Regions from separate parts of the Homo sapiens genome. Here region 1 is linked to region 2. The links come from fine-mapping of genetic effects on plasma protein levels. A gene starts in region 2. The other region holds a variant in brackets. All regions are shown on one strand. Distances are from middle to middle.

Region 1 (5,385 bases), 65 kb after region 2:
CTTTGCTCCCCCATTTCACAAGCATTCCTTGACCCTCTCTCTAAACCTATCCACAGATAATTCAATACAACCACCTACCTCCATGGTGTCAGACCTCACAGTCACTTCTGTTCTCATCGCAGCAGCATTAGCCCCTCAGGGCATCACACTCCTCCCTCACTGCTGTTCTCAGCCTCTTCCTTCTGGTTGCTTCTCTCACTTTGCCTTTCCCTGGTAATCTCATCTAGACTACGTTTTAAATCCTGCCTACAGTCCGGTGACTCACAAATCTGGATCTTCAGCTCTGACCTTTCCTAGAACCTCAGATTAGTATATGCCACTGAACACTAGTATATACCATTGCCATGTGAATATCTAGTAACATTTCAAAAGAAAAGTGGTCAACCCAAACTCAACAGTTGCACTTTCTTAACCTACAGAAAATAGCACCCCCACCCGACCCCAAGGCTATTGTAGGTGCCCAGTCTCCCTCTGTCACACCACCTACTTTAATCTCAGCATAGTACTTTTCTTCCCCCAGTGTATTCTGTTTTGATTGGGTTGTCTACCTCTTCTCAACACTGTCTCCTCCAACTACAACATAAGACACATGACAAGAGAGACCTCATTTGTCTTCCTTCTGGCTACATCCCTACCACTTGCCTCATAGAGGCTGCTCAGTGAATAAACATTAGCTACTCTTTTTTTTTTTTTTAAGCACAGCTATCTTTATCCTGAAGACAGACATATATGTTTCACATAAATATTCCCTTTATTATTTTATTTAGGGCCAGTCTTGGATAGATCCCTACTGATTTAATAATATAAATACCCATTTTTACATATATTCCAAAATCAGTTACTGCCCAGATTTTCTTTTAAAAATTGTGGTAAAATATGTATAACATAAAAGTAACAATTTTAACTATTTGTAAGTGTAAAGTTGAGTGACATTAAATACATGCCCATTGTTGTACAATCATTATCACCATCCATCTGCAGAAAATTTTCATCTCCCCAAATTGAAACTTCATATCTATTAAACAATAACTCACCACTCCTCCCTCCCATGCTGCCCAGATTTTTCATCCATTAAATTCAGGAAAGTATTTGGTTATTTATTGCTGGGAAGTTCCCCTTCCAGTCTCTCATGCTGTTGCCGTCAGACAGGATTGGACCAGAGTTATCACGAAGGCTTATTCACTCATGTGTTTGGTGCCTGGGCTGGGCGGACTTAGACAGCTGGGGCTTCTCAGATATGTCTCTCTGCACTCTCCCCATGGGCTCTTAACATGGCAGGGCCGGGGGCACCAGACTTCCTACATAGCAGCCGATGAGCCTCCCAAGAGAAACTGCAGAACCTGCATGGCCTTCTCTAACCCAGCTTTGGAAGTCCCTTAGCATCACAAAGACCTGCCCAGGCTCAAAGGAAAGGAAATAACCCATCTCTTGATGGCGGCAGGGAGGAGGTGTATCAAAGAATTTATGGACATATTTGAAAACCACCTTGTCCTGACTCAGCAATCCGGGAGCAACGCAGCACCTTAGAATATGTCTGTGTATGAGATAAAAAGAGAAAAGTGGCTGGGCGCAGTGGATCATACCTGTAATCTCAGCACTTTGGGAGACCAAAGTTGGTGGATCATTTGAGGTCAGAAGTTTGAGACCAGCCTGGGCAACATAGCAAGACCCCATCTCTATCACACACAAAAAAAGCTGGGAGTGGTGGTGCACATCTGCAGCCCCTGCTACTTGGAAGGCTGAGGTGGGAGGATCATTTGAGCCCAGGAGGTTGAGGATGCAGTGAGCTGTGATTGCAGCACTGCACTCCAGCCTGGGTGACAGATCAAGACCTCGTCTTAAAAAAAAAAAAAAAAAAAAGAAAAGTACTCCAGTGCTACAAGGTGGGAAACCCAGCATATAGGGCATCCTCAGCCAATCTAGGAAGGGGGCCCCCAAAAGGGCCAAGCCAGTCTGCACAGTGACCTAGCATCTGGCAGCTTCACAGAAAAGTAGACCAGGGTCAAGCCTTGAAGGGTGAAAGTCAGCCCTCTGAAGCGACTCTATGTGACAGAGACCAGG[A/G]ACAGCAGGAGTGAGATGACCTGACTCCAAGCTTCTCCTAGTTTAGAGGTCTGTCTCAGCGCTCCTAATTCCAGACTACAGAAGCCAATCTAACTGGTTTAATGAAAAAATAGATTTATTCAAAGATATTATGCAGTTCACAGAATTTCCAAAAGAGCCAGAGAATTGGAGTCTACACATCTGGAAATAACGCTCACAGACCACACTGCAGGACTGCTCCATCAGAGACTACCATGGCCACTAGCATGGGTCCCAGTCTCCACGTACAGCTTGTACTGCAGAGCCTGGGCACTGGACATTGCTGCTTCTGTGAGCTCGCCTGAAGGTGGCCAGGGACACAACTCATTGGATGTGGAGCTCTGCCATCGTCTTATATTTAACCCTGGTTTCAGAGCTCTCTGTCTTACAAGAGAAATGGGAAAATAAATTATGCGGCTGCACCTTGCCAGGTACAATGGTAAGGAAAACTAAAGGGAGATCTAGAAACCAGCCTGACATATTAAAGAGGGCTTCTGCAGAGGTGAGCTTAGTCTGAATTATGGAAGAACTTTCCAGGCAGATACAAATGCAAAGGCCCTGCAGTGTGAGGAGCTAACCACACACAAGGATGGAGAGCAGTTCATAGTGACTGGAGCCCAGGGTGCAGCTAAGGAGCTGGAGAGGGGGAAAGGCCATACCAGGGAGAGCCTCATACCAAAGAGTTTGGACCATTAAAGGATTCTAGGAAGTTCAAGCTGGAGACAGCAAGGAAGATGTATTGGAAGTGGGTGAGAGAGGGTATGGAAGATGGTTAAGACACTCTTGGAGTAATCAAATGAAAAATAATGAAGGTAGAAACTAAAGCAGGGATAAAAAGGATGGCACTGACTCTAGATATGTTGAGTGAAATAGATGGCATTTGGGGACAAATAGATTACAGTACTAGGGAGAGGGATTTGAGACTAGGATAATTCCCAGTCTCTTAGATGGTGAGGTGATTGGTGTTGCCACTGAGTACAGAAAGGAAGGAAGTAGAGGAATGGAATCAGATTTAGACAGTTAGGGATATTTTGAAGTTGTGATGTCTAAGGAAGCCCAGTGAAGGTGTACAGTACGTGATAGGAAATACGAAGCTGAAAATCAACCAGAGGTTTGGAAGTAGCCAGGAACCCTAATTAGAAGAACTACATACGGACTCTGTCCTGATGGCTTAAAACCCTGCAGTCTCAACTAAGTGGGTTCTTTCCATCCCTCCTGTGTGCCAAGCAATCTTACATTGTGCATACAAAGATACCTTGAAAATATCTTTTTGATCAAATTTTCTTGATGGTAGACCCCCCACCATACCCAAGCAGAGGATCATTGTCTTCAACATATTATGGAACAAGCCCATGCTCATAGATCTGGTGCAGCCATCTCTTGCCCTTCACTTTGTCCCAGCTTGAAAGCTATTAATGCCATTGACTTTCTAGCCAAAGGCTGGAACCTAGTACTTATTTCTCTTTAACTTAAGTTCCCTTTTAGAGATGAAACTTCTAGCCTTGGTGCGGTGGGAAATTAAAGAAATAAAGAAAAATAAAATTAAAAAGAGAAAGAAGTAAGCTTTCCTGTATTAGGCTGACTCATCCCAAAGGCAGTAGCAGGCAAGGCCCAGACCCAGGAAAAAGAGTCTTGATAAACACTATCTAAGAAGCTAGGACACAAAGGAATGTGCTCTGGAGACTCTCCCAGCACTCCCTCAACATAAGGAGAAGAAAAACAAATTTTCCTTTCTCTTATAGTATGAGTTTATAGATTTCTGTTCTCTGTAACTAGCAACTTCAAGCATTCTGTTTTATCTAAGTAGTGGAGTGAAGGTCATAAACTGTCTGAGCAGGCCTGAGATACAGCCACCTGGACGCCATAGTGAAGGTCATGGAATAAGCTGTGCTAGGCACTAAAGGAAAACCTAGATAACTGACATCTGGGTTGCACAGCAACGGTCATGTGTAATCCTGAGTTATGAACCTGTCACAATTTGATTAATTGCTCTGCCTCTGTATCCTTGCTTTCACACCACTGTAACTGTAAGCCTGCTTCAAGCTAGCCCACTCCCTTTTTGAAGTGTGTATAAAAGTCAAGTGCTGTCTTTGTTCTAGGCCCAGTTTTCCAGATGTAAGTCTGAGTACACTCAATAAAGATCCTCCTGCTTTACCCCGAAGTCTCTCTCATCCGCCTGATTCCCGCGACATTGGCACTAGCCATAGATTAATCATTATGGATGGAATTGCTTCACCATGTGGCTTTTATTTTCATCCTGGACAAAAATTAACCATTATGGCTGGAACTGTTTTCACCACGTGGCTTTTATTTTCATCACAACACTGCTGAGGCCATTAGTGAGACATTGGAAAATACTAAAAAATAGAAATTGCTGTTTATCATTAATATTTTATTGATTTTTGTTATTTAAAATAACACAAAGCATTGTGTAATATTGTAGTTTCCAAGCATTCTAAGTTAATGTGGTACGTTAAACCCCACAAATTTTGCATTCTCATCTCATCAATACTACCATGTTTTTCCATGATGCTCATATATATAGAAGAAACCATTTGGTGTTTCTAGAAGAGATCTGAGATCTGACTGCCTATCCTGATTATTGTTCTGGGAAGTTCTATATAGAAAATATAGTGTAGGGCTGGGTGCGGTGGCTCATGACTGTAATTCCAGCACTTTGGGAGGCCAAAGCAGGAGGATCACTTGAGCCCAAGAATTCAAGACCAGCCTGGGCAACACAGGGAGACCCCATCTCTATAATAACAATAACAAAAATTAGCCAGTCACAGTTGTGTACACCTGTATTCCTAGCTACTCAGGAGGCTGAAGTAGGAGGATTGCTTAAGCCCAAGAGTTCGAGGGTACAGTGAGCTATGATCATGCTACCCCCACCTGGGTGACAGAATGAGACTCTGTCTCTGAAAAAAGAAAAGAAAAGAAAGCCAGTCTTGGCCACCCAGAATCTCCCATTCCAAGGTATTTATTAATATATCATTCAGACAAGAATAAGCACAAATATAGTATATTTTATATTTTCATAATTTATTTTGATATTCACTGTAATTGCATTTCTTTTCTTTTCTTTTTTCTTAGACAGACTGTTGCTCTGTTGCCCAGGCTGGAGTGCAGTGGCACGATCTCAGCTCACTGCAACCTCCACCTCCTAGGTTCAAGCAATTCTCCTGCCTCAGCCTCCCGAGTAGCTGGGATTACAGGCACCTGCCACCACGCCCAGGTAATTTTTTTGTATTTTTAGTAGAGACAGGATTTCACCATATTGGCCAGGCTGGTCTCGAACTCCTGACC
Region 2 (5,385 bases):
AGCACTTTGGGAGGCCGAGGCAGGTAGATCACAAGGTCAGGAGATCAAGACCATCCTGGCTAACACAGTGAAACCTCATCTCTACTAAAAATACAAAACATTAGCCGGGCGTCATGGCGGGCGCCTGTAGTCCCAGCTACTCAGGAGGCTGAGGCAGGAGAATGGCATGAACCCGGGAGTCGGAGCTTGCAGTGAGCCGAGATCACGCCACTGCACTCTAACCTGGGTGACAGAGCGAGACACTGTCTCAGAAAAAAAAAAAAAAAAGAGAGAGAGAAAAAAGAAAAAGGAAAAAAAATCTTTGTATCACATGTTAATGCCTACTAGAAAGCATCCACCAAAGAAAAGGCACTAAATAACCAACAAAATGGCTCAACCAGTTTGGCTCAACAAAACGATTGAGCCAAAATGACTGAGTCTCAGTCATCAGCCACCCCACTGCTGGCACGATGGGCACAAGAATGAAGTGACCGTGGTAACAGAGATAGAGGCCACCCATGAGGCCAATAGCACAGACCCCGAGGCTTATCTAGCTCCCATCATTAACAAATGCCCAACCTGACAGCAGCTGACACTAATACTGTCCCCACAAGATGGCACAATTCCTCAAGGAGACCAACTAGTCACTTAGTGGCAAATTAATTACATCTGATTCTTTCACTCTTTGGAGGGTCAGTGGTCTATTCTTACAGGAATAGACATATTTGAGGTATGAGTGTGCCTTTCTTGCCTGCAGGGCCTCCATTAGCACCATAATCCAGAGAATTATAGAGTGCTTAATTATCTAGCAAAGATCACATCCTGCCAGACAAGGGTGCCCACTTTACAGCAAAGCAGGCCCAGGAGTGGGCCTGTGATCATGCAATCCCCTGGTCATATCACATACCACACCACTCAGAAGCTGGTGGACTTACAGAATGTTATAATGGGCTGCTGAGGACAGAGCTGAGGTGCCAGTTAAATGCAAAACTTTGTGAGAATGGGGTGCTATCCTCCAGGAAGCAGTATATACATTCAATCAAAGACTTTCATATAGCATTATGTTCCCAATAGGAAGAATACCTGGGTCTGGGAACCAAGGAATAAAGGCAAGAATTACCACACTTACCATCACCACCATTGACCAACTGGGGGCTTTGTGCATCTTGTCTCCACAGTTGTAGACTCTGCAGGGTTCGTTATCTTGGTCTCCAAAGGACTATACTTTCACCAGGGGCAAGCAAGAGTCCCATGGAATTATAAACCAGAGCTGTTGCCTGGGGTACGCTGGGCTCTTTGTGTCTAGGAACTAGCAAGAAAGAGTCAGAATCCACAAGGGTAATTGGCCCTGATCATTCCGAGGAAGTAGGGCTGCTATTACTATAATGTGGGCAGGGAGGAAGATGTGTAGAACCCACATAACCTACTGGGGTACCTCTTATTTTTTGCTTTTTTTGGTTTCTTTTTTAAGAGAGGGTCTCTCTTTGTCACTTAGGCTAGAGTGCAGTGGTGCAATCATGGCTAACTGCAGCCTCAACCTCTCCCTGTGTTGCCCAGGCTCATCTCAAACTCCTGGCCTCAAGCAATCCTCCTGCCTTGACCTCCCAAAGTGCTGGGATTACAGGAGTGAGCCACCATGTCCAGCCTGCCTCTTGTGACAGTAGGGATAAAAATGGCAACTTTTGCCTGAGAAACAAAAGGTAACCAGGGGCTCAGACCACTCCTGAAAGAGAGTGTGGGACATGTCATCCAGTAAGTCACCGAGACCAGCAGAGGTGGGAGGTCAAGGTAAAGGGAATCTAAAATGGATAGGAAGGGGGCCAAGGGTAAGTTTCAACTACAGCCCCAAGATCAACTGCAAGGGTAGGAGCTGTAGTTTTTCCCATTAACTTCCTCTTCTAAGTTTTCTCTCAAGAATAGGGACCCACTGAAATGTTTAAGGAGCCACTCCTGGAGTGTATATGGAACATAGATCTAAGAGGTGCAAGTATGTACTCTGAAAGACACAGAGATGAGTTTCCCAGAACCCTTGTCAAGGAAGGTCTTGCTACCTGGCTGTAAAGAGTGTAGTCAGAAGATACCTCCTCCTGATAGCACATAACTGTCAGATCCTTCTGTGTCTGCCTTAGCTACAGAAAACTGTCTCACCTAAGTGTATGCCCTTCCTGGGCAATATATAGTAGGGGACCAAGCAAGGCAGAATATAATGGCCCAGCCATTTATACTGAAATCAGGGGCACTGTGACAGGTCACACTCACTCCAGTTCAACTTCTACCTCTGTTCACCCCTGCTTCCCCTCCCTTCCTTGTATGGATATCGATCCCTAACAAACACTTGTGCCCCACACTCACTGTCTCAAGTCTGCTTCTGATGAACCCAACTGTGTCAGCATTTCTGCTATCACAGATTTATTTCATAAATAGATAAACCCTGCATGATAGTTGGTACTGGCACAAGAATACTTGTTTTTAAAATTTCTTGTACTCCAAAAATACAATTTGATCACAGCACAACAAATGCATGGTAAAGAAGCTGGTTTCTAGAGTTTTAAATGTATTTTGCAGCCTTCACTATATGGTCTACTTTTATTCTTACTGTCTCCTAGTCTTCAACCTTAAGTTTAAAAAATTATATTTTTACTGTACAAAAAAAAAACCAAAAAATTGCTTCCAATATAATTTCTGTCTTCCCTGGAATACAGAATTGAGTCATTGCAATTAACAGGGTGGGAGGAAATCAGTCTCTTCTGGTGGAAACAAGTTCCTATTGGTCACCTCCCTCAGCTCTTTAATGGGAAGGCCATTTTTTGGTTTCAGTTACGGTAAATCTCTCTGGATTTCAGCCAAATTCTTTCAGAGTTCAAAAGTACAAAGCTCTTTAGGAGGTTTGTTCTTTTGAAACATTTTTTCAGAGGTTAAAAATTAAATTTCAAAAGAATACCTGGAGTGGAAAAGAGTTCTCAGCAGAGACAAAGACCCCGAACACCTCCAACATGAAGCTTCTTCATGTTTTCCTGTTATTTCTGTGCTTCCACTTAAGGTTTTGCAAGGTAAGTAATTCAACCTTTATGCAAACAATTTTAATTGATAATTTAAAGGTTGTAAAAACATAGAAAATAATCTTAAATATATAATTTTGATTTAAATATTACATAGTTCAGTTACAACAATGCCACTCTATAGTCAGCAACAAATGTTTTATGTTAATATCTTGATAAAAGTGATTTTTTAAAAATAGTTCTTTTTATGTGCTTATATATGCAGAGGCATTGAACTGAACAAGAATTTTACTAATACAAGGCTGTGATTTACTGTAATTGTAGTAAATCAAAAATATTTACCAGGCTCCTCCTGTGTGTAAGGTACAGTGCTACGAAGACAGTGAGACTGATCTCTTCCTTCAACAGCCTCTTAGTACGCTCTATAGTTATAGAAAGGGGAAATAATAAGCAAATTTGAAACATCTGAAAACACAAAAGTGCAAGTTACAAGACAGTATATATTTAATTGTCAAAAGTGATACAAATATGTGGTAAAGGACTTCAATGAGAGGACAAATCACTTCATGCTGAGAGGTCATGAAGAGATTATAGATCAAGTAGGATTTGAGCTGAACGTTTAATTCTGTATTACATGTGATCAGTGGTGAGAAAGAGGAGTGATTTCCAGCTTCTTTAGCCAGGAAAAGCAGCAAGTGCTACCATAGGAAGGCAGCAATGCACTAGGCCCCTCCAAATAAATGAATCCATTTGATCAGAATGAAGGCTTTGTGGGCTACAAAGGAACTCGAAACTGAAATGACATATTTTATTGAAGTTAGAGTGTCATCTATTAAGGTGAAAAATGTTTAAAATATTTTGGATACTTATTGATGATTGCCAACTTTGGTGGCAATCCAAAACTATCTTGTCTTAGTGCCAGCTTGTAGAAGAAAATATTTAAAGAAAACTACTTAAGAAAACACACTTTAAGATTCTTGTAACTTCTAAAATAGTTGCCATCATTGCAATGTTTATAATAGAGAATAAATGGAAATAACTAAATGCTTATTAATAAGACACTGGTTAAATTATTGTATATCCAAAATTGAACTATTACATAGCCATTGAAATGACATATTTATCTAAATAAAAAGTCCTTACTACAATTTTATTTTTATTGAAGAAAAACACACACACACATATGTATGTGTGTTTATATGCATATATATAAATGCATACTTATACCTACTTATATATATGACTAAAAGATCTTACAGTGTATGTATCAAACAGTTAATAGTTGCTATCATTGGCTAATAAGATTACTGGTGATTCTATTTTCTGTTTTCGGTTTTACTGAACCTACTCAGACAAGGAAACTAGGGGATTCAGAAAAGATGGAAAAGAAACCCATAGCACAGTGGGAGTGGCTGCTGGGGCCTTCTAATGGGGGGAATAACCAGAGGATGTTCAACAACAAGGAAGCTGACTAGGTGTGGGGGTTCACGCATGTAATCCCAGTACTTTGGGAGGCTGAGGCAAGAGGATTGCTTGAGCCCAGGAGTTTGAGGCTGCGGGGAGCTCTGATCATGCCACTGTATTCCAGCCTGGGTGACACAGCAAGATCCTGTCTCAAAAAAAAAAAAAAAAAAAAAAAAAAAACAGAGAAGCCAAATATTTCAGTCAACATGATTACCTACCATAATTGTGCTGTGACGTAATCACCAACTGATACCCTAAATTTTATTTTACCCTAAAATTTTATTACAAACTCAGGCACATATGGGTGGCATTTTAGAGAGAAAGAACTGGGGTAATGTTAAGCAGAATGACAACATCCTGGAAACAAGGGTGGCACACAGGAGGGTGTGCAGTGCAAGTGATGGCAGCGGAAATGGCAGAGTAGGCAGATCCACCAAAACCAAAAACCAAAAATCCATTTCTACAGAAACCAAAGGGAAGCTGTCAGAACCAACTTTATTTAGAACTCTGGAAAACAGTCAAAGGTTTATAGCACCTAAGAAAATGTTGAATGCAGGAACAGGCAACTAAAAATGGTATGAAAGCTTAGTAGCATTTTGCGTGTCTGTCCTTTGTGTCCTTGCCCCATACCCTCCCTAATTTGGCAGTGGTCTTGAAGGATATCTGAGTACATAAAATAGCCTTAACACAATAACAACAAATTTTGGTTTATTAAAACAAGTTCACACATTGTCATTAAAAAGACATTTTGAAATTCACTGTATTCTCATTACCTTAGTTTGCAAATGTTAAAGCAATTTTCTTCTAAAAATACAAACTGTTTCTCTTACTATGCAGAATATTATCCTAATCACTTACCACACTTCTATCACCCTATCACTTATAATACTGTTGTAAACCAACCACTAAGTGGCCTTTCCACTTACAATTTCTTCATGTATCT

Which allele goes with the higher level. Positions count from the first base shown, and alleles are read on the strand shown. Strength reflects both the effect of a copy and how common the allele is.
For the plasma level of the protein whose gene starts at base 2,945 in region 2, A is the low allele of the variant in region 1 and G is the other (moderate association).

What was found. PIP is the posterior inclusion probability: the model's chance that the variant is causal. The UK Biobank Pharma Proteomics Project read protein levels with antibody pairs (Olink). The fine-mapping took linkage between variants from a reference panel, not from the people measured, so its PIPs are less certain.
Region 1: its variant is fine-mapped to the plasma level of the CFI protein (UK Biobank, PIP above 0.99).

The regions. Positions count from the first base shown.
Region 1 is chr4:109,734,588-109,739,972 of GRCh38, reverse strand. It overlaps a transcript of CFI not described here. Among named protein-coding and RNA genes, the nearest start is that of PLA2G12A, 7.2 kb to the right of the region's middle. The variant A/G (reference allele first, on the strand shown) is at 2,062.
Region 2 is chr4:109,799,559-109,804,943 of GRCh38, reverse strand. CFI (complement factor I) reads left to right here and starts at 2,945. Exons shown (of 13, transcript NM_000204.5): 1 at 2,945-3,029. The coding sequence starts at 2,973. LOC124900757 (a long non-coding RNA gene) reads right to left here and starts at 1,272. Exons shown (of 2, transcript XR_007058226.1): 1 at 1,109-1,272.